4 linked regions of the Homo sapiens genome follow. The protein of the gene in region 3 purifies or fractionates together with the protein of the main gene of each other region. This does not show direct contact. Each region holds a gene or a part of one and is shown on either strand. Other genes may lie near its edges.

What was found.
Region 1: the proteins of GDI1 (region 3) and RAB10 purify together in Homo sapiens (co-immunoprecipitation; 5 studies listed by BioGRID and IntAct, with this or other methods). This does not show direct contact.
Region 2: the proteins of GDI1 (region 3) and RAB8A purify together in Homo sapiens (co-immunoprecipitation; 7 studies listed by BioGRID and IntAct, with this or other methods). This does not show direct contact.
Region 4: the proteins of GDI1 (region 3) and RAB5B purify together in Homo sapiens (affinity purification with mass spectrometry; 4 studies listed by BioGRID and IntAct, with this or other methods). This does not show direct contact.

What each region holds. Positions count from the first base shown.
Region 1 is NC_000002.12:26,134,776-26,138,670, reverse strand, and holds the end of RAB10 (ras-related protein Rab-10), read right to left. Parts: intron 3,734-3,895; coding exon 3,650-3,733; 3' UTR 1,217-3,649; downstream 1-1,216. UniProt on the Homo sapiens protein: The small GTPases Rab are key regulators of intracellular membrane trafficking, from the formation of transport vesicles to their fusion with membranes.
Region 2 is NC_000019.10:16,128,889-16,135,758, reverse strand, and holds the end of RAB8A (ras-related protein Rab-8A), read right to left. Parts: intron 6,206-6,870; coding exon 6,155-6,205; intron 3,548-6,154; coding exon 3,455-3,547; 3' UTR 1,525-3,454; downstream 1-1,524. UniProt on the Homo sapiens protein: The small GTPases Rab are key regulators of intracellular membrane trafficking, from the formation of transport vesicles to their fusion with membranes.
Region 3 is NC_000023.11:154,439,454-154,443,967, forward strand, and holds the end of GDI1 (rab GDP dissociation inhibitor alpha), read left to right. Parts: intron 1-487; coding exon 488-686; intron 687-921; coding exon 922-1,053; intron 1,054-1,642; coding exon 1,643-1,742; intron 1,743-2,169; coding exon 2,170-2,341; intron 2,342-2,657; coding exon 2,658-2,802; intron 2,803-2,920; coding exon 2,921-2,975; intron 2,976-3,066; coding exon 3,067-3,219; 3' UTR 3,220-4,014; downstream 4,015-4,514. UniProt on the Homo sapiens protein: Regulates the GDP/GTP exchange reaction of most Rab proteins by inhibiting the dissociation of GDP from them, and the subsequent binding of GTP to them. Promotes the dissociation of GDP-bound Rab proteins from the membrane and inhibits their activation.
Region 4 is NC_000012.12:55,990,054-55,997,183, reverse strand, and holds the end of RAB5B (ras-related protein Rab-5B), read right to left. Parts: coding exon 7,086-7,130; intron 6,503-7,085; coding exon 6,380-6,502; intron 5,825-6,379; coding exon 5,731-5,824; intron 5,088-5,730; coding exon 4,972-5,087; 3' UTR 501-4,971; downstream 1-500. UniProt on the Homo sapiens protein: The small GTPases Rab are key regulators of intracellular membrane trafficking, from the formation of transport vesicles to their fusion with membranes.

The sequences.
Region 1 (3,895 bases), on a different chromosome or scaffold from region 3:
GGGGAAGGAATAGAACATTAAAAACACTCCATGTGATTCTTAAAATCACTGCATCTGAGAAAAACTCTACATATACTTTCAGCAGAGACAATCTTGTCAACAAATATTTATCTTTATTATTGACTAATAAAGCCTGAATATAGGATCAAACATTTCTTTTCCCTACACATAAAGACAAGGCTGTTGCTATGTATAACAAAAGCAGGAAATACTGTTTTTTGTTTTTTTTTTTTTGAGAAGGAGTCTTGCTCTATAGCCCAGGCTGGAGTGCTGTGGTGCGATCTCGGCTCACTGCAACCTCTGCCTCCTGGGTTCAAGTGATTCTCCTGCCTCAGCCTCCCAAGTAGCTGGGATTACAGGTATGCGCCACCACGCCCGGCTTTTAGTATTTTTAGTAGAGACGGGGTTTCATCATGTTGGCCAGGCTGGTCTTGAACTCCTGACCTCAGGTGATCCACCCGCCTCGGCCTCCCAAAGTGCTGGGATTACAGGCGTGAGCCACAGCGCCCAGCCAATACTTTTTTTTTTTTTTTTTTTTTTTTGAGACGGAGTCTTGCTCTGTCGCCCAGGCTGGAGTGCAGTGGCGCTATCTCGGCTCACTGCAGCCTCCTCCTCCTCCTCCCGGGTTCACGCCATTCTCCTGCCTCAGCCTCCCGAGTAGCTGGGACTACAGGCGCCCGCCACCACGCCCGGCTAATTTTTTTGTATTTTTAATAGAGACGGGGTTTTACCACGTTAGCCAGGATGGTCTCCATCTCCTGACTTCGTGATCCGTCCGCCTTGACCTCCCAAAGTGCTGGGATTACAGGCATGAGCCACCGCACCTGGCCAATACTTTGTTTCTTAGTAAGAGGCCAGCTGCTGCTAAAACAAGGATTTACCCTCCAGTATGAGGAGCCCAGCTTGGTCCCCCTGAGGAATCAGGTGACCTCAGCTGTAGTGGCCTTAGGCACATCCAACTAGTGTAAGCCAGGTGTGATTAGGATCGTGGCATCTCCTATTTTGGCACAAGGATGATTCCGCTTTAGGATCCCAGAGATAATTCTATTTTTTAATGTAGTTTCTCAGCAAAGACAGTTCTTGAAATTGCCTTTCCAGTTTTCCATAGGTTGACAGTGATTTCCCATTTTTGTCAACTCTTTGAGTTTGCGATTCCACATTTTTTTCAGAAGTAATCTTCCAATTCCATAAATAAATGAAAACCAAACCACACAGCTGGAAATCAAGTTTTGTTTTTATATGAACAGAAGTAGACCATCTAGAAATATTTCAGTTTATTTAAATTGTTAAGTAGAATATGAAACCGAATTTGTAGCTAGTACCAGAGAATGGACTTAACTGTTTGGTGTTTAATGAGAACAGCTTCTACACAGGATCCCAAGAGACTTACAGAAAAGGGGCAAAGCCCTAATATTAAGCAAATAAAACTCATGTTTCAAACAGATTATACAAAAATTGATTTATACTTCATTTCCCTTTTTTGATATTTAGAAAGTGCAGATTTAACAAAAGGTAGCCATATCCTTTCTATGTACAATGCCGATTATAATTATGCAAAACTGTCAGTCTGTTATCCAAAAATCCCAGTGTTTAGCTCTCCAACCTTAAGTCATGGAATTGAATAAGAATTAAAGAGGGTTAAAATAAAAAAGCTAATGCCACATTCCAGATAAAGGGAAGCAACAAATACATTAATCTAACAACAGTAGGTTTAACCTAAACTTTTCAAAAAGCTTAACATCATTTCATTATATTTTTAGTGGAAAATTAGGGATTATTTGGCAATGCTGCTTTTTACTAGTAGTAAACAATGATAAAGTCAAGTGTGGGAATAACCTAAGAATAACAACCAGTGAGGCATATAAAATTGTTTTTAGGGCACTATCTGAAAAATTTGTGGATTTTCATAGCAGATACGTCCCTATGTTGTTTGCTTATGTGAGCCAAGAGGTCATTAAAATGCTATTCACGACACAGAAAGACTTCTCAATGGAAGCTGCTGTCCTAAACTCAGCCTCTGCTAGAAATGAATCATGCTATTCACAATTCTTTCAACAAAGGTATCATCTTAGGATGCTAGCAGCATAGCAAACTTCACTTACCCTATCCTAATGATAAGCAATGAAGCAAAACTAGAAAAAATGCAGTGAAAAAAGGACAGGGTTAGAGATAGCTAAAGATCTTATCTTTACATGAAAAGCCTTTCGTTGTCCTTTTTCCAAACCCATGGTAATACAAGTTTTCCAAAAGGATGTAAAGACAGGACTTAAAATTAATAATATTCTAAAGTATTTCTGAATCTTAAGGTAAAGAAACTTAACACTGAAAAAGTGTTCTTCAGAGGCCAAATCTCAATACATTTGGCAAACATGTTAATAAAATTCACTCCTCCTTCCTGCTTTTCCTTTTTTAAAAAAACAACCTGTACTAGGCTACCAAGCTGCTAGAGGAGTTGCCAAAATGCAGACTACTCAAATTTAGGTTAAGAGATTTATTCTAGGAAAGTGAATAGGCTATACACCTAATTAGAAAGACAAACCACAACACCCTCCAAACACTAGTGCATGCAGTTAACTCTTCCATTTCATAAACTCAATGGATAGACAGGAAGGGAACAAAGAGAGGAGGAAAAGCAGAACATAGAAGTAAAACAGCAAATGAAGGCATCTGGGACACATTTTAGGGAAGAGAGCAAATGAGGGGGGAAGACACCAATTAACTGACATTGGATAGTAGGCAGTTAGAACTTATCTTTCCGTTTACCTAGCAAGTTACATCAGTGCTTTATATTAAACTTGACAAACCTACTAGTTTGTCCCTTTCACTCTTAAATATACCATGAGGTGGTTGGGGAGGGAGAAGCAAATAAAGCAGCATGCAGGGAGACGCAAGGAAGAAGTGGCCAAGGAGAAGAAATGGTGGCAGGAATAGTTTTAAATATCAAGGCCACTTAAAACAAGACTCAGCAAACCAAAGCTATCACTTCTGCATTACCCTTTGTCCTCAATTAACTACTTTGAAAATTACAGCCAAGCAAACCACAAACATTTTAATGGTTTATGTTTGGATGATATGTCTCCTGCACATGCTTCCACCAGAACAAAAAAGGAAAACCAAAGAAGTTCCTTTCCACATAAGGCACAGGACAAAATTAATCCCATTTACATATTCAAGGCGAAAATGAGTGTTTTCCTGGCTTTTGTTTGTTTCTTTTGCTATCACATGTCTATAGATTATAGGGACTCAAGCACATTATCCATGACAGAAAATTCCACTGTTGTACAAAATAAAATTGTTAATTCTAACTTTATTCTTATACAATTTGCAGAATAGATTTGAAATGATTGCTATAGGTTTTAATGTTGATAAGAACTGGACTATAATACAACTGAAATGCAGTTGAGCTGAGCAAGTACATTTAAAAATGAACTCACAGACATGATTTTTCTATACATTTTTTTGTTTGAAGAAAATTATGATAAAGTCAGCAAGCAGTCACAGATGAAAGAACAAATAAAATAGGTGGCTTGGATAGTTAAGATGAGAAACAAAAATATCTGTTTAGAGTTAAAAATGGACAGAGTGGTTTATTTTGCAGCAAGAAGAGAAAACGGGGTAGTGGATGGCAACTGATGGAACAGGAGAATGCTCAGCAGCATTTGCTCTTCCAGCCTGTCACGCCTCCTCCACTGCTGATATCTACATTTTCACTGTTGGGCTCTTTTACAGGGGTCTGCAACAAACACACAAGGAAAATAACTCATGAAAAAACACTGCCATGGATAAAATCACGATTCAACAGGAATATTCTTATGTCAATTTATACAACAAAATACAACTACAATCACAGGAGATAGGTTTCCCCTCCGTGCAAAGTAAAGATTTGGAAGCTTTG
Region 2 (6,870 bases), on a different chromosome or scaffold from region 3:
GAGAAGGGCATGACTGGGAGAGGCCTCTGCAGAGGTAGCCCTGGATAACCATGATGTGATGGACAGTGGGCTTTGCACATTTCAGGAGACTACAAGACTAGGGTGTGGCAAGTGCAAAGGCCCTGGGGCCTTCTCAGTGATGAGTGTGGAGTGAAGGAGTAAGGAAGGAGAGGATTGGAGTGGAGTGAGCCAGGAAGGGCAGCCAGAGAAAGAGGAAGGAGTAGGCAGGGCTATGGCTGCAGCGTGTAGAGGCTTGTGCCCCACGGTGAGGGGCGTAAGTTGTATCCCTAAGCCCAAGGAAGACCTGGGGAGGTTTTTTGTTTTTTTTTTGAGAAAGGGTCTTGCTCTGTCACCCAGGCTGGAATGTAGTGGTGTGGTCACAGCTCACTGCAGCCTCCAACTCCTGGGCTCAAGTGATCCTCCCTCCTCAGCCTCCTGAGTAGCTGGGACTACAGGTGCATGCCACCATACTATTTTTTATTTTTTTGAGACGGAGTCTTGCTCTGTCACCCAGGCTAGAGTGCAGTGGCGCAATCTCGGCTTACTGCAACCTCTGCCTCCCAGGTTCAAGCGATTCTCCTGCCTCAGCCTCCTGAGTAGTTGGGACTACAGGCGCGTGCAACCATGCCTAATTTTTGTATTTTTAGTAAAGATGGGGTTTTGCCATATTGGCCAGGCTGGTCTTGAACTCTGAACTCCTGACCTCAGGTGAACCACCCACCTCGGCCTCCCAAAGTGCTGGGATGAGGCATGCGCCACTGCACCCGGCCAATTTTTGTACTTTTTTTTTTTTTTTTTTAGAGATGGGGTCTCACTATGTTGTCCAGGATGGTCTTTAACTTGAACTGGCCTCAAGCTATTCCCCTGCCTCTGCCTCTCAAGGCACTGGGATTATAGGCATAAGCCACACACCCCAGCCCCTGGGGAGAGCTTTAAGCAAGGAGGTGACACTGATTTCAGTTTCGTAAGGACACTCTGAAAATAGTTTGAAACACAGAGGTGAGGACCTGAAACCCATGAGGAAGTGGTCACAGAGGTCCAGGTGGTCGTGGCTACAACTCGGGAGGGGTCAGCTGTGGGCACGATGGGGAAGGCAGGGATGGAGTCCAGGGTCAGGGCTGTGTTATGCTTACGGTGCCGATGAGACATTCAAATTGGAATAGAGAGTGGCAGGTGAAACCGACCTGGGTCTGGCCTGGATTTGCAGCTTGAAAGCCACTGGCCTATCTAAAAGCATAGTGTGTGCAGAAAAGAATGAATAGATCTGAGGCTGCTTCCTGAGAAAGGCCTGCTGGCAAGGTGGGCCTGCAGTTGGTAAAGTTCCCTACGGATATTAAAACTTCCCTACATGCGTGGCTCATACACTTTCTGTACAAGTGATGCGGTTTATGCTAAACCCCTGCTTTCTTTGTAGGAGTCTGGAATCCTGATAAGTGCCAGGTAGAGGGTTCCTATGTGACTGGCTCCATAAACACCTGGGTACAGAACTGCCAACTAGCTTTCACAAAAGACACATTACACACCTGTTGTTACAACTCATTGTTGGGGGAGTTAAGCATGGGGTGTGTGACCCCACTGTGAGAGGATTCTGGATGCTTCTGTCTGGTTGCCTCTGGACTTCACTCTGCATGCCTTTTCCCTTTGCTGATTTTGCTGTGATCTTGGCTGTGAGTACAGCTCTCTGCCAAGTCCTAGGGAATGACTGGACCTGGGTGTGGTCTTGGGAAGGACCCTGGATAGAGTGGAAGGAATGCCCTGGAAAGCCAGCCAGGAGAGGGCCCCTAGAAGGACCTGCCAGGGAGGCAGGAGGGACACAGTGGCCGAGCTGTGTGCCAGAAGCCAGGTGACGCAGGCTCACCATGTTGGCCAGGCTGGTCTCGAACACCTGAGCTCAAGTGATCAGCCCGCCTTGGCCTCCCAGAGTGCTGGGATTACAGGTGTGAGCCACTGCACCAAGCCAGGAGGCTTCTTTTCCCAATTTAGTCTTTTGATGATGGGTGGCATCTCCTCTGAGGTGGCCGCTCGATGGGGTAATCCATGGGCTCTACCATCTTGTCCAGACCCACCCCCAGCACCTGGCCATGTCCGTGTGGCCTACAGGGAAAATGTGGACATAAAAATCCTTGGACTTTAAGATGAGCTTTAATTTGTTTGTTTTCCTTAAGTGCATTTATCGATGTAAACAGAGCATGTTAGAGATTCCCGGGGAGAGCAGACTATTGCTGATATGTTGGTTTTAATTCAAAAGAAACGATGATGCCAATGGTTTGGATTGACAGCAGCTTAAGGAGGAAAAAAAAAAAAAGAAAGAAAAAAAGAAAAGGCTGGTGACACCCCCCTGGCGTGGTTGACCTGGTCCCAGTCGCAGTCCCTATGGGACAGCAGAGCTGTCAAAACAGAACCCAATGATGACGGCTGAAAATCAAGCCAGACTGCTGTGCGGTCAGCTTGCCGCCGTGGAATGCCTTGTGTCTTGGCCATGTCCAGCCAAGGGTACAACGTGCTTGTTCCCGATCACCCAGGTTTGCCATTGGAAGTCAAAGACAGAATCGCTTCATGGCACTACAGATGTGGAAAAATAAAAATCTCAGCTAGAAAGAACGTCCGATTTGGAGATAGCGGGAGGACACGAAGGAGTGGGGGCCATTTTGGTGCTGAGAGGAGGGTGCCCCAACTTCAGGAGGACCATGTGACGGCTGTGGTTGTTTTCGGGGTCACTTGCAGCACACACAGCGTCCCCTTGATGCTCGATGGGGACCGCAGACGGGCCTGCAGACCTAACCCCTGGCTGTGGACAGGAGAGGCTGCTCCAGGCTTCTTTCCTTCTCAATGCTTTACACAGGATTTCCTTCATTTGTGCTTTCCTTTGGTTTAACAGTTAAAAAAGAAGAGTGAGGGGGCAAAATGGTTTGTCACTTGTCCAAAACTGAGAGAAGAGGTGGAAGTGGGCGCCAAATCTCCTGGGTGATGCTTCCTGGTCCTGGCGATCGGTTGCCTTGCTCAGGGTTTGGGAGCTGTTGCTCCTGGAACCACCGCTGGCCTTCTGGGACCTCGCTTCCGTGGTAGGGGACGTGAACCAGCCTCCTGGTGGAGCTTTGTGTTGCAGTGAGGCCACAAAGCAAAGGCCCAGAGGCAGAGGCCTGACACTGGCTGTGGTCGACGGTCACACCTTGACTCCCTCTCTCTCTCTGAATATACAACGTGTGGGTGGGCCCGTTCAGCAGATGTTACAGGAAAAATAGCAAATTTTTAACTTATTCCATCTCCAAAGTTGAAAAAGATCAGACAGTTACTAAAATAAACGATTTCTCAATTGCATTCTGGTGGCCGTGGGCCCGGTGGCCGCGGCGTGGGCGGGGCGTTGGAGGTGGGAGGGCCCCGGCTGAGTGAGGGGCTCACTCAGAACAGGCACAGTCAGCTGGGCTGAGCGAGGCTCAGAGTAAGGCGGTGTTCCTCACAGAAGAACACATCGGAAAAAGCTGCTCCTCTTCTGCTGGTCCGGTGTGATTTTGACTCCCTGGTTGCTCCCCTGGGGGCTGTTGCCTTCCTGAAATCACAAGAGGTTTTCTGAGGTTATCACTGAGAATCAGCACTACGTCTCACAATCAACCAGCCATCCACCTAACCATCCACCTAACCATCCATCCAACCATCCAACCAACCAACCAACCAACCAACCAAACAACCAAACCAATCAAACCAGCCAAACCAACCAACTAACCAACGAGCCATCCAACCATCCATCCATCATCTGCCAGGTCATCCATCCATTACCATTCCAGCCATCCAACCAACCAATCAGCCATCAAACCATCCATCCATCATCTGCCAGTCCGTCCAGCTGTCCCCTTCCAACCATCCAACCAACCAACCAACCAACCAACCAACCAACCAACCAACCAACCATCCATCTATACCCTTTCAACCATCCATCCATCCACTCACCCATTCCCTTCCATCCGTCTATCCACCTGCTTCCAACCAACAAACCAATCAACCAACCATCCATCCCTTCCAACCAAGAACCATCCACTCATCCATCCCTTTCCAACCATCCATCTTCTTCCAACCATCCATCCCCTTCCAACCAACCAACCAACCATCCATCCCCTTCTAACCACCTCATCCAACCAACCATCCATCCATCCCTTTCCAACCATCCATCCACCCATCCATCTCCTTCCCCCCATCCACCCTCTTCCAACTAACCATCTCCTTCTAACCACCCCTTCTGACCAATCAACCATCCATCCATCCCCTTCCAAGCAACCACCTCCTTCCAACCAACCATTCATCCATCCCCTTCCAACCAACCAACAAACCAATCATCTATCTATCCAACCATCTCCTTCCAACAAATCAACCATCGATTTATTCCCTTTCAACCAACCATCCATCCATTATCTTCTACCCATCCATCCAATTCTCTTACAACTGATAATTCGTTTTTCAGAAACAGATCTATTTTCCATCTGCTATATACCACCCCTTCCAACCACTCTCTCACTTATCTGCCCACCCCATCATACCCTTCCCAGCACTTTGGGAGGCTGAGGCAGAAGAACTGCTTGAGCCCAGGAGTTTGAGTCCAGCCTGGGTAACAAGTGAGATCCTGCCTCTTAAAAAAGAAAAAATGGCCAGGCGGGGTGGCCCACACCTGTAATCCCAACACTTTGGGAGGCCGAGGCAGGTGGATCACCTGAGGTCAGGAGTTCAAGACCAGCCTGACCAACATGGTGAAGCCTCGTCTCTACTAAAAATACAAAAATTAGCTGGGCGTGGTGACATGTGCCTGTAATCCCAAGTACTCGGGAGGTTGAGTCAGAAGAACCGCTTGAACCTGGGAGGCAGAGGTTGCAGTGAGCAGGGATTGCACCATTGCACTCTAGCCTGGGCAACAGAGCGAGACTCCTTCTCAAAAAAAAAGAAAAAGAAAAAAAATTAGCCAGGCATGGTGGTGTGTGCTTATAGCCCCAGCTACTTGGGAGGCGGAGGTGGGAGGATTGCTTGAGCCCAGGAGTTGAAGGCTGCAGTGAGCTGTGATGGTGCCACTGCACTCCAGCCTAGGTGGCAAAGTGAGACTCTAAAAAAAAAATCTCTTTTTTAACTAATAAGAAAACTAAAAGAAAAAAGAATCAGACCTTGACCATTATACTGAAGAAAAAAAATTGCAAGAAAATCCCAAATTATTGTTGGTCAGTGCACTGGTTTCCATGAACTGTTTCCCATTTTAATTTAATGGCCAAAGAGCTGCTATTAAATCAATCACATGCCTCACTGTTCAACACACCGCATCTTAGAATTACAAAACAGATTTGCTTACATCAGATGTAAAACTTGAACGGCATTTTGTATTTTATGTGCATTCTCAAGTGACCAGACTTAACCCACAAATAGAGCGCCGTGTGCTCCTCGATTGGACAACCAATGTAACATGGCCGGGAAAGGGCAGTTGCTGGAACCAGGGCGAGGGAGGAAGGGTCACTACGGTGTTTAGGCACTAAATGCCCCCAAAGTACAGGGAAGTGTTTGATTCCATCAAGAAAGCACCATTGATACTGAGCGCAGCGGACTAGGAAATCGCTAACGTGGTAAAAAAAAAAAAGCAAGAAACGAATGAGAGGGTAGATGGGTAGGGATTCATGCAGACTTCCCTGGAGGCCTCAGAGAACCCTGGGACACAATGAAGGTTGCAGAGCTGTCACAACTTGTAGCATCTGGGGCTGGGGTGGAGCGGGGGCAGGTTCTTGATCTGCCATGCTTGTCAAGACGATGAGCCAGCAGTTATCAGACACCAGCCCTGGCCCTGCCCAAGCGACCTAGGAAGCTTTTCTCCGAGCCATGGCTCTCTGTCCTTGCACACCATGTTGTCTTTCTGGCCCTTGAGTGGAATGGAAAAGGCCGTGTGCTCCCTGCTAGCCTGGGGATTCACCGGGCACGGCCTTGTCTGCTTGGGCAGCGTCCCCAGGCTGGCACTGCCTGATGCTGATGCCCCAGCCACACCTGCAAACTCTTCCCCCTTTCCCAGCAATGTCCCATGGGGTCTGGCTGGGCCCTAAAAAGCAGGATCTAGGGCACGTCATATCACTGCTGCTAACGACGATGGCTGGATCCCAGAGATCCACCCGGGGATCTCGGAAGGACACACACTCACCAATTTTTTGTCCATTTTTGCTTTGATATCTCTGGCGAGAGTGAAAAATGCCTGTGGAATAAGCACATTGTGAGTCCTTGGGATGGCAGGACCCTGAGTCCTCAGCCGCCCGTGTACAGCGGGTGTGGTGAGACAGCTTCCCAGGCGTGGGCCTCCCATTTGGCCCTTTGATGCCCGCCTCTGGCAGTGGGTTCATCTGGCCTGTCCGGCCCCAGCTCATCCTTCCCCGGCTCCCTCTGCCTCCCACCCACCCTTACTCTCTGACATCAACTCTCACTTCCGCAGAGCACCTTAGCATTGACGGGACTTTACGCATGTGCCACCTCCCCTAAGCCCTGTGAGATGGGGCGACACTCAGTTGGCCAGAGAGGAAACTGAGGCTCAGAGAGGCCAAGTGACTTGTCCAAAGGAACCCAGCAGTTAACCGACCAATCCAGAAGGATCTAGGAGTGCCCAGTTCTTTGTCTCTGACTCCTAGGTTCTGTCAGCTCTGGCCTCCCTTCTGATGGTCAGGGAAAAAGGCAAGCAGCTCTGTGGCCAAACAAGCTTCACTCGGAGTCCTTGCCTGGCAGGGCTGGGAGCGGGAGCAGGTTCATCTCCCAGCACAGCCAAGGGTTGAGCTGCTGTCACAGCCTTGAGGAGGGGACATACAGAGATGGCGGGAGGCGTGATCCCAACATACATCCCCATGATGTGGGAGGTTCTGGAGAGGAGAG
Region 3 (4,514 bases):
GATCACGAGGTCAGGAGTTCAAGACCAGCCTGGCCAACATGGTGAAACACCGTCTCATCTCAAAATACGAAAAATTAGCTGGGTGTGGTGGCATGCACCTGTAATCCCAGCTACTCGGGAGGCTGAGGCAAGAGAATGGTTTGCGCCCGGGAGGCGGAGGTTGTGGTGAGCCGAGATCACACCACTGCACTCCAGCCTGGGCGATAGAGGGAGACTCCATCTCAAAAAAAAAAACAAAAACTTGAGCCTTTGGCAGGGCCTCCACTGAATCCCCGAGACATCGCCAAGTGTCTGAGCCAGGAAGGCCCTTAGAGCCCATCCAGGCCAATCCCCTCTTCATCCAGGTGGGGAAACTGAGGCTAAAAAGGGTGGAGAGGTTAACCTAAGATCACAGGACAGCTGGGCTGTGAGTGGGGGTGCCTGCCCTGCTGGGATGGAGAGTTTTGTGCTGCATTGATGCAGAACCTCCTCCCGCCGCGTTCCTTAGATCTGATGGGCATGTTTGAGAAACGGCGCTTCCGCAAGTTCCTGGTGTTTGTGGCAAACTTCGATGAGAATGACCCCAAGACCTTTGAGGGCGTTGACCCCCAGACTACCAGCATGCGTGACGTCTACCGGAAGTTTGATCTGGGCCAGGATGTCATCGATTTCACTGGCCATGCCCTGGCGCTCTACCGCACTGATGAGTGAGGGGAAGCTGGGTGGTGGCAGCCCCCTCGCCCGGCCCGCCCCCACCCTTCCCACACCTGCCTGCTGTCCCCCTGCCCCGCATGTCTCTTGTACTCAGCCACAGGCTCACCTATCACCCTTTCCATTTCCCCCTTGCATTTGATCCTCATCTTCCCCAGGCCATTCAGGGTGGTGGGAAGACTGGCCTGGTACCTGGGTGGGGGTAAATCAGGGGTGCTGCTATTCCCCCAGCTACCTGGACCAGCCCTGCCTTGAGACCGTCAACCGCATCAAGTTGTACAGTGAGTCCCTGGCCCGGTATGGCAAGAGCCCATATTTATACCCGCTCTACGGCTTGGGCGAGCTGCCCCAGGGTTTTGCAAGGTGAGGACATGGGTTTTTTCAGTTGGCATAGCTGAGTAGGACTAGGGCCAGGAGTGGAGATGGCCGCCTTGAGCATTTTCTTGGTAGTATTTCCTCCTTTCCAATTCGTGCTCTTCATTTACTTCACTCCATCCTTGGGTGATGAGGGCACAACCCCAGTGCACTGAAGTACAGAAGTCTCCACACTTGAAAAAACGAGTCTCCACAAATGTGACTTGCTCAGTTCCCGGCAGCACCAGGACTGGGCCCAGGGTCCCAGAACCTTGAGTCAGGGCTTAGCTGGGAGCTGACCTATCTCCAGAGAGTCCATTCTGGTCCCTCAGGCTGTCTTGGTGCGGAGCACTGATCCCTCATGCCCCCTCCCGCTGGCCCTTGGCAGTGTATTCTGAGCAGAAGCTCCAGAGAGGAAAGAGCCCGCGGAGATGGGGCCAGCGTTCACGGCAGTGACAGAGCTGGGATGAATCCCGGCGTCTCCTACCTGCTGCCTGCCTGGGGCAGCCTTCTTTGCACTTTGGTGGAGGAAGGGTGCAGTGGAATTGGTCCCCGTTTCTCCTGGGAGGGGCCTTCACCGGAGCTGCTCTCACCACAGATTGAGTGCCATCTATGGGGGGACATATATGCTGAACAAACCTGTGGATGACATCATCATGGAGAACGGCAAGGTGGTGGGCGTGAAGTCTGAGGGAGAGGTGAGCCCTTCCCGTGCATGCAGTGCAGTCCCATGGTTGAGGCGGGGCTTGGTCACTTTCTCTGTGCTGTCGAGTCTCCTGCTGCACAGCCCCAAGGGTCTTGGAGCTGGGAACTGGGGGTCCAGAAGTCTTCAGAGTCATGACTGTGGGTGAGAGGTCTCTTTCAGAGGCCACATGCCATGTCTGTGGTGCAGAAAGTGTTCTTGATCACAGTGCCTCTGGGGGGCGGGGGGGCGGGCACCCAGCCCGTGCGTCAAGGCCCACCTATCTGAGCGGCAGGGTAGGGCCATGCATTCAGGAGGGGCAGTAGTGATGGCTCCGAGGAACGTCTTGTCTGCCAGAGCTGCCTGCCCTTGCTGTGAGCGCAGCCCCACGTCTACCTAAGGGAGGGATGTGACAGGGGCGAGGACTTCTGGTGCCTTCTCAGGTGGCCCGCTGCAAGCAGCTGATCTGTGACCCCAGCTACATCCCGGACCGTGTGCGGAAGGCTGGCCAGGTTATCCGCATCATCTGTATCCTTAGCCACCCCATCAAGAACACCAACGACGCCAACTCCTGCCAAATAATCATCCCCCAGAACCAGGTCAACAGGAAGTCAGGTAGGCCGGGCGCTGGTACAGCTTCCTCTAGGGTGTTCTCTTTGGGGTTACTCTTTTTCTCCCCATCAGTGTGGGAGCTCCCTGCCTTACCTCTCTGGAAAAAAATTTGAGCCACATTGTAGCCACCACAACTTGGAGCCCTAGGGTTTGGGTGGCCTGGACTCTTTCCCTCTGGGAGGGTGGCGGCTTGGATGCTACCTGCTCTGCGGGGCTGGGGAGGGGCAGTCGGGCCAGACTTGTGTCCAGCCACTGGAACCCCTCTCTGCGTATGGCCAGCGCCTCTGGCCTGAGTTGACGGAGCTCTTCCTGTGGCCAGACATCTACGTGTGCATGATCTCCTATGCACACAACGTGGCGGCCCAGGGCAAGTACATAGCTATTGCCAGCACTACTGTGGAGACCACGGACCCTGAAAAGGAGGTGGAGCCGGCTCTGGAGCTGTTGGAGCCCATTGACCAGAAGTGAGGGACTGGGCTGAGCCCAAGGGGGAGAGGGAGGGAGCCCAGCAGCTGGGCTTAGGGACCAGGAAGGGCATGGCCCATTGTGAGGCCTGTCCCCTCCCCTCTGTCTGCCCCTCAGGTTTGTGGCTATCAGTGACTTGTATGAGCCCATTGATGATGGTTGTGAGAGCCAGGTAAGCAGCTCGTCCCAGCCCTGGGCTCCTGGCTGCCCGCCCAGGATACCTGTCTGACTCACCCTGGGCGCTGGGCTCTGGCTGTTTCCAGGTGTTCTGTTCCTGCTCCTACGATGCCACCACACACTTTGAGACAACCTGCAACGACATCAAAGACATCTACAAACGCATGGCTGGCACGGCCTTTGACTTTGAGAACATGAAGCGCAAACAGAACGACGTCTTTGGAGAAGCTGAGCAGTGATTGTGGCCGCCCCCAGCCCCTGCTGCCCCAGCCTGTGTCTGTTCTCCTCGAGGGCTCCAGCATCCTCTGCTTCCCCCACCACGTTCCCATCACCCACCTCATTGATCCACTGACCAAATCCTTAACCCTAGCGATGGCTTGGGAGATGGGGGGTTGGATAGCATCCTCTTTCTTGGCCCTTCCTTATCCTAGGAAAAGAGGGTTCCTCTCCTTGTGTGTGTCTCTTCCCCCCACCCCTAATTCTTCTGCTCTGTTTGGGAAGACGTGGAGGAAAAGGTGACTTCTGCCCCCACCGCTCTTACCCCCACTGTAGTGGCCTTTGGAGATGCCCCCACCTCCCCCCCACCAACTCTCGCGTGTTGGAGAGAAGGGGCCCTCCCAGCACAAAGTTGCATTCCTCCCCCCTAATTTATTCTAATTTATTAACTTTGACCCACCCTTTCTGAGCCTGCAGCCTTCCCGTGTGGCCTGAGGGCTGTCGAGTGAGCTGCCCCAGCCCCTCCCAGCCCTTGCCCAGCCTGGGGGAGTGGGGAAGGCTTGGGCATGGCCCCGTTGGAGGTTGATTTGCTGTTTTGTTTCTTGTCTTTGTGTTCTGTGGTACTTGCTGAGAGAAAAGAAAAGTGAGCCAAGCAGAAGGAGGTGGGAAAACGGACCCAAACCCCAGTGTGCCCTGCCCCATGCCTTTCCTTTAGTGGTGGGAAACCCTTATCTTGCAAAGTGAATGTGTCCCCTTCCCCACCCTCTAGTGTATTTCACAGAAAACAAAACCTCCCAATAAAACGGTTGAAACCTGAATCTCTGGATCTTGATGGTTATCTCCCAAAAGCTGGGTACCTGGCAGGGCTTTGGCTGCCTGGGTTGGGGCTCTGGCTTAGCTTCACTCTGGACTGTAAAAGGTGGCATTCTTCACCAGGGAATTCCTCACCCAGAGCACGCTGGGGCCAAATTGACTTAAAGCTTAAGGCTACCCAGTGAGTCGATGCTGGCACCAGGACTGCAGCCCTCAGTGCTCAATGCAGGGGGAGTGTGGTGGAGGGCGGGTGTCAACGTGGAGGAAGCAGAGGGAGCGGGGGTCCTGGCCTCTGGCTTGAAAGGAGAGGGCAGAGGGGACCAGGGGCCAGCCTCGGATGGGATTCTAAGTGAAGCAGGGAGACGGGTGCCAGTTTTCGGCTTAATGCGGGGGAACTAGGGCAGCCAGGGGACCAGCGTTGGGGTCACCAGGAGGAATTAGAGGGACCGGGGCCCAGCCTTGGCTCGGGTTAACGTCGAGGCAGCGCGAGGGGCTGGGGAATTCA
Region 4 (7,130 bases), on a different chromosome or scaffold from region 3:
CATTGGCTGGAACCCGCCTCCTGGAGCCGAGACAGGCAGGTTGCTAAGAAGCCTGGGAGAAGAGGCTGGCTCTTTTTGCTGTCACTCTCGCCAACAGTCCGGAGTCCATTATACCCCTGGTGTGCAAAGAATGGGACCCTTGTGCACCAGGGCTGTATGTCCGGAGCTCGGGCAGTGTGGAAGGTGACAAGGAATCCAAAAGTTGGGCTGACAGGTGGGAGATTTTGAGACACCCCTGCCGCCCCTCCCTGGAGGAGGCCTCGGGATCCAGTCCGGTTTTCCCCGGCTGTGATCTCCACTTTAAACCCAGGGTAGACCTACCTCTATCTACTCTGTTGCAACTACAACTACCCTGTTTATCTTTTAGGGAAAGCAAAGTCAATCGCTTAGTTCTCGTATTCCAGGAATGATAACAGAAATGCCTAAAATAGTGGTTCCAAGAATTTGAGATTCCTTGGGCTAGTCGAATTTCTCCCCAAACAAAAATGAAACAACAACACTGAATAGCCGTCTTTTATTTTGCGTAGAAAAAAAAAATAATAATCGCCCCTTGGTGGCACACGCCTGTAGTCCCAGTACTCGGGAGGCTGAGGCGGGAGGATCGCTTAAGCCCAGGAGTTCGAGGTTGCACTGAGCCAAGATCGCGGCACTGCACTCCAGCCTGGACAACAGAGCAAGACCCCATCTCTTAAAAAACAAACTGCCCCTTAACAAGAGCAATGGCAGCTTAACACCCCGAAGTATGAAGGTTGTAGTCTCTTATCTCAAAGTAAGGGGCATAAATATAATACATTTCCTATTACCCTTTTGTCATTTGATGCAGGACAAAATTTATCAAACCTAGTCCCCCAATCTGGACAAATGTATCCATACACTGCCCTCTAGAGGCCGGACGGTGGAGCTGCAATTTTAATCAGTTTAAGTGAAGGTGTTCACCTTTAATTTTGAAAGATCATTTCCTTTCCTTTCGGCTCTCCAACTAGAGCTTTTACCAGGAATCAGGGAACGGGGGTGGGGGGTATTACCAAGAGATATAAGGTAAGGGAACCGACAGTGAAAAGTTGGCAAGTTGGCTTTGGCTCTTAAGTGTTTGGAAATGGAAAGGATTTCAATCTGTATACAATCAAATCACTGAAGAAGGCTAATGCCCAACCTATCCTACCAGTTGTTAAAAAAAAAATATATATATATATATATATGTATATATATATGGAGAGAGAGAGAGTGAGAGAGAGAGAGAGAGGGAGAAAGAGGGAGAGAGAGAGAAAGCGAGCTTCAACCTAAAAAAAAAAAAGTCTCAGCCAAAGGAAGATACAGAGAAGTCAGTTAGGGACTATCTAAAAGCCTCCTTCCTAATAGTGTCATCTACTTTTGTGTGACACACATACTTTACATAATTGACCTTAATCTTCAGCTTTTACTTTACAGATGAAGAAACGAGGCGGAAGGCACTAACTAACTTGATCAAGGCCACAGCTGGTTAAGTTGACAGAGACAGGCCTAGAATGTCAGATTTGTCTGGCACCAGTCCTCTTTCCTATCCACCTTCAGATTCTTTGGAATTTAAAGCCTACTGCAACCACACATAATCCTATTTCATTTCCCTTCCCTCGACCTTTAGACTGTGGTGGACTGAAGGGTTTGAAGTACACTAGGAGTCAAGAGCAGATCCAGAGGAAATTTTCCCGTTGAGGTGGAAGCTACAAGAAAACTAACTCAGTGATGTTTTTCAACCTTTGGGTCATGGACCCCTTTGAGAAACATATAGAAATGGATCCTAGAAATATGCACATACGGCCGGGCGCAGTGGCTCACGCCCGTAATCCCAGCACTTTGGGAGGCCAAGGTGGGTGGATCACGAGGTCAGGAGTTCAAGACCAGCCTGACCAACATGGTGAAACCCCGTCTCTACTAAAAATACAAAAATTAGCTGGGTGTGTTGGTGCGTGCCTGTAATCCTAGCTACTCAGGAGGCTGAGGCAGGAGAATCACTTGAACTCAGGAGGCGGAGATTGCTGTGAGCCAAGATCGTGCCACTGTACTCCAGGCTAGCGACAGAGACTCCGTCTCAATTAAAAAAAAAAAAAGAAATATGCACATACATTTTTGTATACTACTTCAAATAGCACCCCTCTCTCTAATCTGATCAGTGGGCCCAAAGATCCACAGACCATACCCTACACATATACATTCTGTTAAGAGGGCCTAAAAAGATATAATAGGGTTTGATTTGATGAACAATCTAGTGGCCTTAGAAGAGGGGTGATTAAATAGCAATAGAAGGGCTATTTTCTAAACTAGATGTTTAAGAAAAGATTAAAGGGAATAAAGATGTATCAAGATGCAGGGAAAGGTGTGTTTCTGATTCAGTAGAACATTACTGGGTATCCTTTCTTCCAAATTCCTAGTACCTGACAAATAGCAAAAATAATAATAATAATAACAATAAAATAAAAAAAAGCAACACTCCAATGCCCTTTTCTTTTTTTCCTTTTTTTACTTACATTAAATACATCGGTAAATCAGCAGTCGCATTCTGTTACCACGATTGTTATGTTGGGAGAGGAAGAAAGGCAAATGCTTTCTCAGAAGCAAAACAAAAACAAAAAACCACAACACCCCCCCTTAAAAAAACTGACCAGAAGAAAAAAATGAGCTGGGAAATAAACAAAAGAAAACTAAGATCCCCAAGCCCAACAGAGCTCAAAGGAAGGCAGAAGAGGTGGTAGGAAGTAGAGGGAAGGCAGCCGATAGGCCCAGAAGCTAAGGCCAAATCCTGTTCCTATGGGGGTGGGGGGAGGGAGAAGCCTGGGGAAGTGGTTTCCCAGGCCCAAGATAATGAAACATCTTCACTCCTGCTCCAAGGGGGAAAGCTGCACAGAGAAAGAACTTCATTTCTAGAAGACTTTGGAAAGCCATCCTAGTTCTTCCACTTGTAAAAAGGATGCACTGGGTGCTATGGGGGGCCAGTGGCTTCTGGGAAAGGAAGGGGGAAATGTGTGTGTTTCAGGGCCATGGGAACTAAGGCTGCCCCTGGAAAAGGAAGGGAATTGAGGCCTAAGTGGAAGAACCTAAGCTGGGTCCTTCAGAATCTCAGCTTCATAGATTTCTCAGCTGTTCTGGGATAGAAGGCAGTCTGCAAGCCAAAAGGGCAGGAAGGTTCCAATCCTAGGTCACTGTGACCTTTCCTTTCTTTCTTTCCCAAAACTCCGGGCTGGAACAAGGAACTTAAAGTTCTCTTTTGCCTTGATGGCTTCTCAGAGACATCTTAAAACACCTGATGAAGGATATGAAGAGAGACTAGAGATTTAGAAAGGACCAAGGTCCTCTGATAATATGAGCCAGTTGTAAGGTACCTTCAGTGCCGGTCATTCCCTCTCCACAGGAACAGGTGGTATGATACGAGGGCACCACAGGAGGCCTCTGTGGTACTAGCCCCTATTGGTACATGGATTAAACCACTGGTTGCATGATGGGGAGGGATGGGGGGATTAAGGATGGAGGGACTAAATTCAAGATATTAACAAAGGAACAAAGAAACAGGGCCTGATGGGAGGCAGAGGATAGAACAGACTGTACAGTGGGAATAAAGATCATACCTATTTACAAGGAAGTAGAAAAGACATGGTAATGGATATCAAATTGAGTGTGAAACCTGGGAAAGGACAGAAAACTCCTCCCTTTTGCCTGACCTCCTTTTTACTCCCCTACCTTGGCCTGTGCTATCCTGAGACACTCCTCAATTGCTCAATTAATTCTCCAGGAAAGGCAAACCTATAGTCAATAGTTAGCTTGGCAAGAATATAGGTTAATAATTAGAGTTGGAGGAAGCTAACAGTGGAGATAGGACTTGAGTAGCTGCCACTGGTAGTTTTATCTATAACCTCTCCTCGAACCTCGCATTAACCTCAGATTTCATTGAATTAAAAAGAAGGTGGGAGGGCAAGTAAATCAATCAAAACTTCCATAAAACAAGTACCCCAACTGAACTACCATCAATTAAAGTGCAAACTGCAGGGGTATATGGTGGCTGGGGCTGAGGCCATCTAAAGGCCAGAGGGGAAAAAATGCATATGTATAAATCAGAGGATGGGTACCAGAAACTGTCCCTCCTCCAATCAGATCACAGCAGAGCCAAAGATGCAGGCAACCAGTGAAAATTCTTTGGAAGACTCTGGGGTCCAACCCCCACGATTAGGGGAAACGCTACCTAAGAGGCTGCGTGAGGGGAAACTGGGCCTTTGAAGAGTTACAGAGCCACAGTTGACACTGCACCTCCACCTCCGCCCAGTTAGCTTACAAGGCACCTCCTGCCTGGTGCCTGAGATCTTGCCTCCCCATTCTCACCTCTACCTAGGAACACCCTCCACAAGGCCAAATCATGGATACCGCAATGTTTTCAAATATGAGAAACTCCAACCAAATAAAAACAAAAAGGAAATGTTTCCTTACTCCCTCCTGCTCTGAGCTTTATTCTCCCCCAGGGCCCTTAATGTAAATGAACTGGAAACCTCCTTCCTCAGTTCCTGGGTTCACCACTTTCTGCATCCTGGGGAGAGGAGAAAAGAGGCTCAAGAACAGGGACTGACCAAAAGCAGAAGGGGAAGGGACAGGAGTCAGAAGTGTTTTCTGAAAAAATGGGGAGGAACACTAGGGAGGAGGAGAAAAGATACGTAAGTCGCTGTCTTGTACCTATAATACAAAGTGAAGAAAGTTTGTTTTGGAAGGTAAGTCCTGGGGGGAGTTGACCCCCAAGCCCCAGAGTAGGGGGTAGGAGGCCAGTGGCAACAGCTGCCTGGTGTTTGTTGCTGAAGCGTTAAAAAGTGCCATGACGGAGCTGTCAGGAGGCAGCCCTTGGGAGCCAGGGCTCAGTGTGCTGTTACCGTAGGGGTTGTGTGCTGAGGGGTAGGGATGGAGGTTATTTCTTAGCTCTTGTGCTAGCTCCATACTTGTTTGCTGCTAGCCACCCCCTCAGTTGCTACAACACTGGCTCTTGTTCTGCTGGGACTGTTCATGGAGATCCACACCCCGGCTTCGGCCTGCTGCACCTCCCAGATTCTGGGGTTCACTCTTTGGCAACTTCTTAGCTAGAGATAAAAAGAGAAGAGAACAAAGTATGGTAGACTTTACTTCCCTACCCCTCTGCCTCCACCCGCCAAAAACGGCTACTGAATTGGGGAAAAGGGAGAATTTGAGAGATTAAAAGAATGTTCTGAAGATGGGAGGGTTCACTATTTGCAAACTTTTTTTTTTTTTTTGAGATGGAGTCTCGCTCTGTTGCCAGGATGGAGTGCAGTGGCACAATCTCGGCTCACTGCAACCTCCACCTCCCGGGTTCAAGTGATTATCCTGGCTCAGCCTCCCAAGTAGCTGGGACTACAGGTGTGCGCCACCACGCCCAGCTAATTTTTGTATTTTTAGTAGAGACGGGGTTTCACCACATTGGCCAGGATGGTCTTGATCTCTTGACCTCGTGATCCGCCCGCCTCGGCCTCCCAAAATGCTGGGATTACAGGTGTTAGCCACCACACCTGGCCGGCAAACTTACACATTGAAGACAAGGGAGCTAAAGCTGCAGCCAAGGATGGAGGTCATAACAGAAAGTTAAGGTATTTCCATACCTAAAGTTTTTGCAAAAGGAGATACTCGCACCTATCCTTGATTTGGGTTAGCTATAATTTTGCCTATAAACGAGGGAAAAAGGAGGACCTCAGGATGTTCTGACCTTACCTATTGCCAGGAAGAGATCATTCACGTTCATAGCTGTCTTGGCTGAAGTCTCCATGAACAATAAGCTGTTGTCATCTGCATATGCCTGGGCCTCCTGCAAGGAGTGGGATGTATTAGTGCTCAGAATGTAGGGTGGGAACGAGTATTGCCTTTCCACTCCCATGCAGCACAACAGCTAGGCAAAATCCTAGGTTCCCTCCCCTTAATTAATACCCCTTTGAGCCAGCTAGCCTAGATGCATAATTTAATGACAACTCCCTCAAGATGACCCCATGTCCACTCAGTCCAACACACAAATGTCAGAAAGCTTAATTATAGGGGAGAGGGTAAGTTAGTTGGGGGCTTTTGGGTTGTGACACTTGAATAGTCCCTTACCACAAATTTAATTGCTCCCTCCTTCCTGTTTTCACACTGGTACCCCCACAGCTGGTACCTCCCTAACCCTCTGCTCTGGAGTTTTCTCCTGACTCCTTTGAAAATCTCCTGGCTGTCATTAGGGTCACAGTGTTGCTGTATTTAACTTGGTGTAGAACTGGGGAATGAGACAATGAATGTCCTCTGTTGACGTTTTCAGAGAGGGCTGGTTTGGAAAAAAAGAGGTCCCAGGAACAGAGGAAGTGTTAGAGAGGAACTCCACGGGCCACCTTACTTCATACTCCACCATACGTTTGTTGGCCAGGTCAGCTTTGTTCCCTGCCAGGGCAATAACGATGCTAGGACTGGCCTGTCGCTGTAGTTCCTTCACCCATGTCTTTGCTCGGGCAAAGGTTTCCTAGGAAAACATGAAGAGAATGAGTAGGCTGGAATGACTGCCAATCCATATCCATCACCTTTTAAAATGAGTCTCAAAATTCACCTCTTCTAGGTGGTCTTCCCTCAGTGAAACCACAGGTCTCTGATAATTCATTATCTGTCTTCTTAGCACTTGGAAGCATAATTTGTACTCTTATTTGCTATTTCAAGAACCCGTTTTCTGCCCCCTTACCCCCTGCCCCAAACTAACTCCTCTAAATATAAGCAAGGACAGTCTTTTTTCTTTTTTTTTTGAGGCGGAGTTTTGCTCTGTCGCCGAGGCTAGAGTGCAGTGGCTCGATCTCGGCTCACTGCAACCTCCGCCTCCTGGGTTCAAGCGATTCTCCTGCCTCAGCCTCCCGAGTAGCTGGGACTACAGGCGCGCACCACCACGCCCAACTAATTTTTGTAATTTTAGTAGAGACGGGGTTTCACCATGTTGGCCAGGATGGTCTCAATCTCTTGACCTCATGATCCTCCCGCCTTGGCATCCTAAAGTGTTGGGATTATAGGCGTAAGCCACCATGTCCAGCCAACAAGGACAGTCTTCTTAGCTCACTTACCTGATTAGTAATGTCGTAAACCACGATTGCAGCTTGGGCACCCCT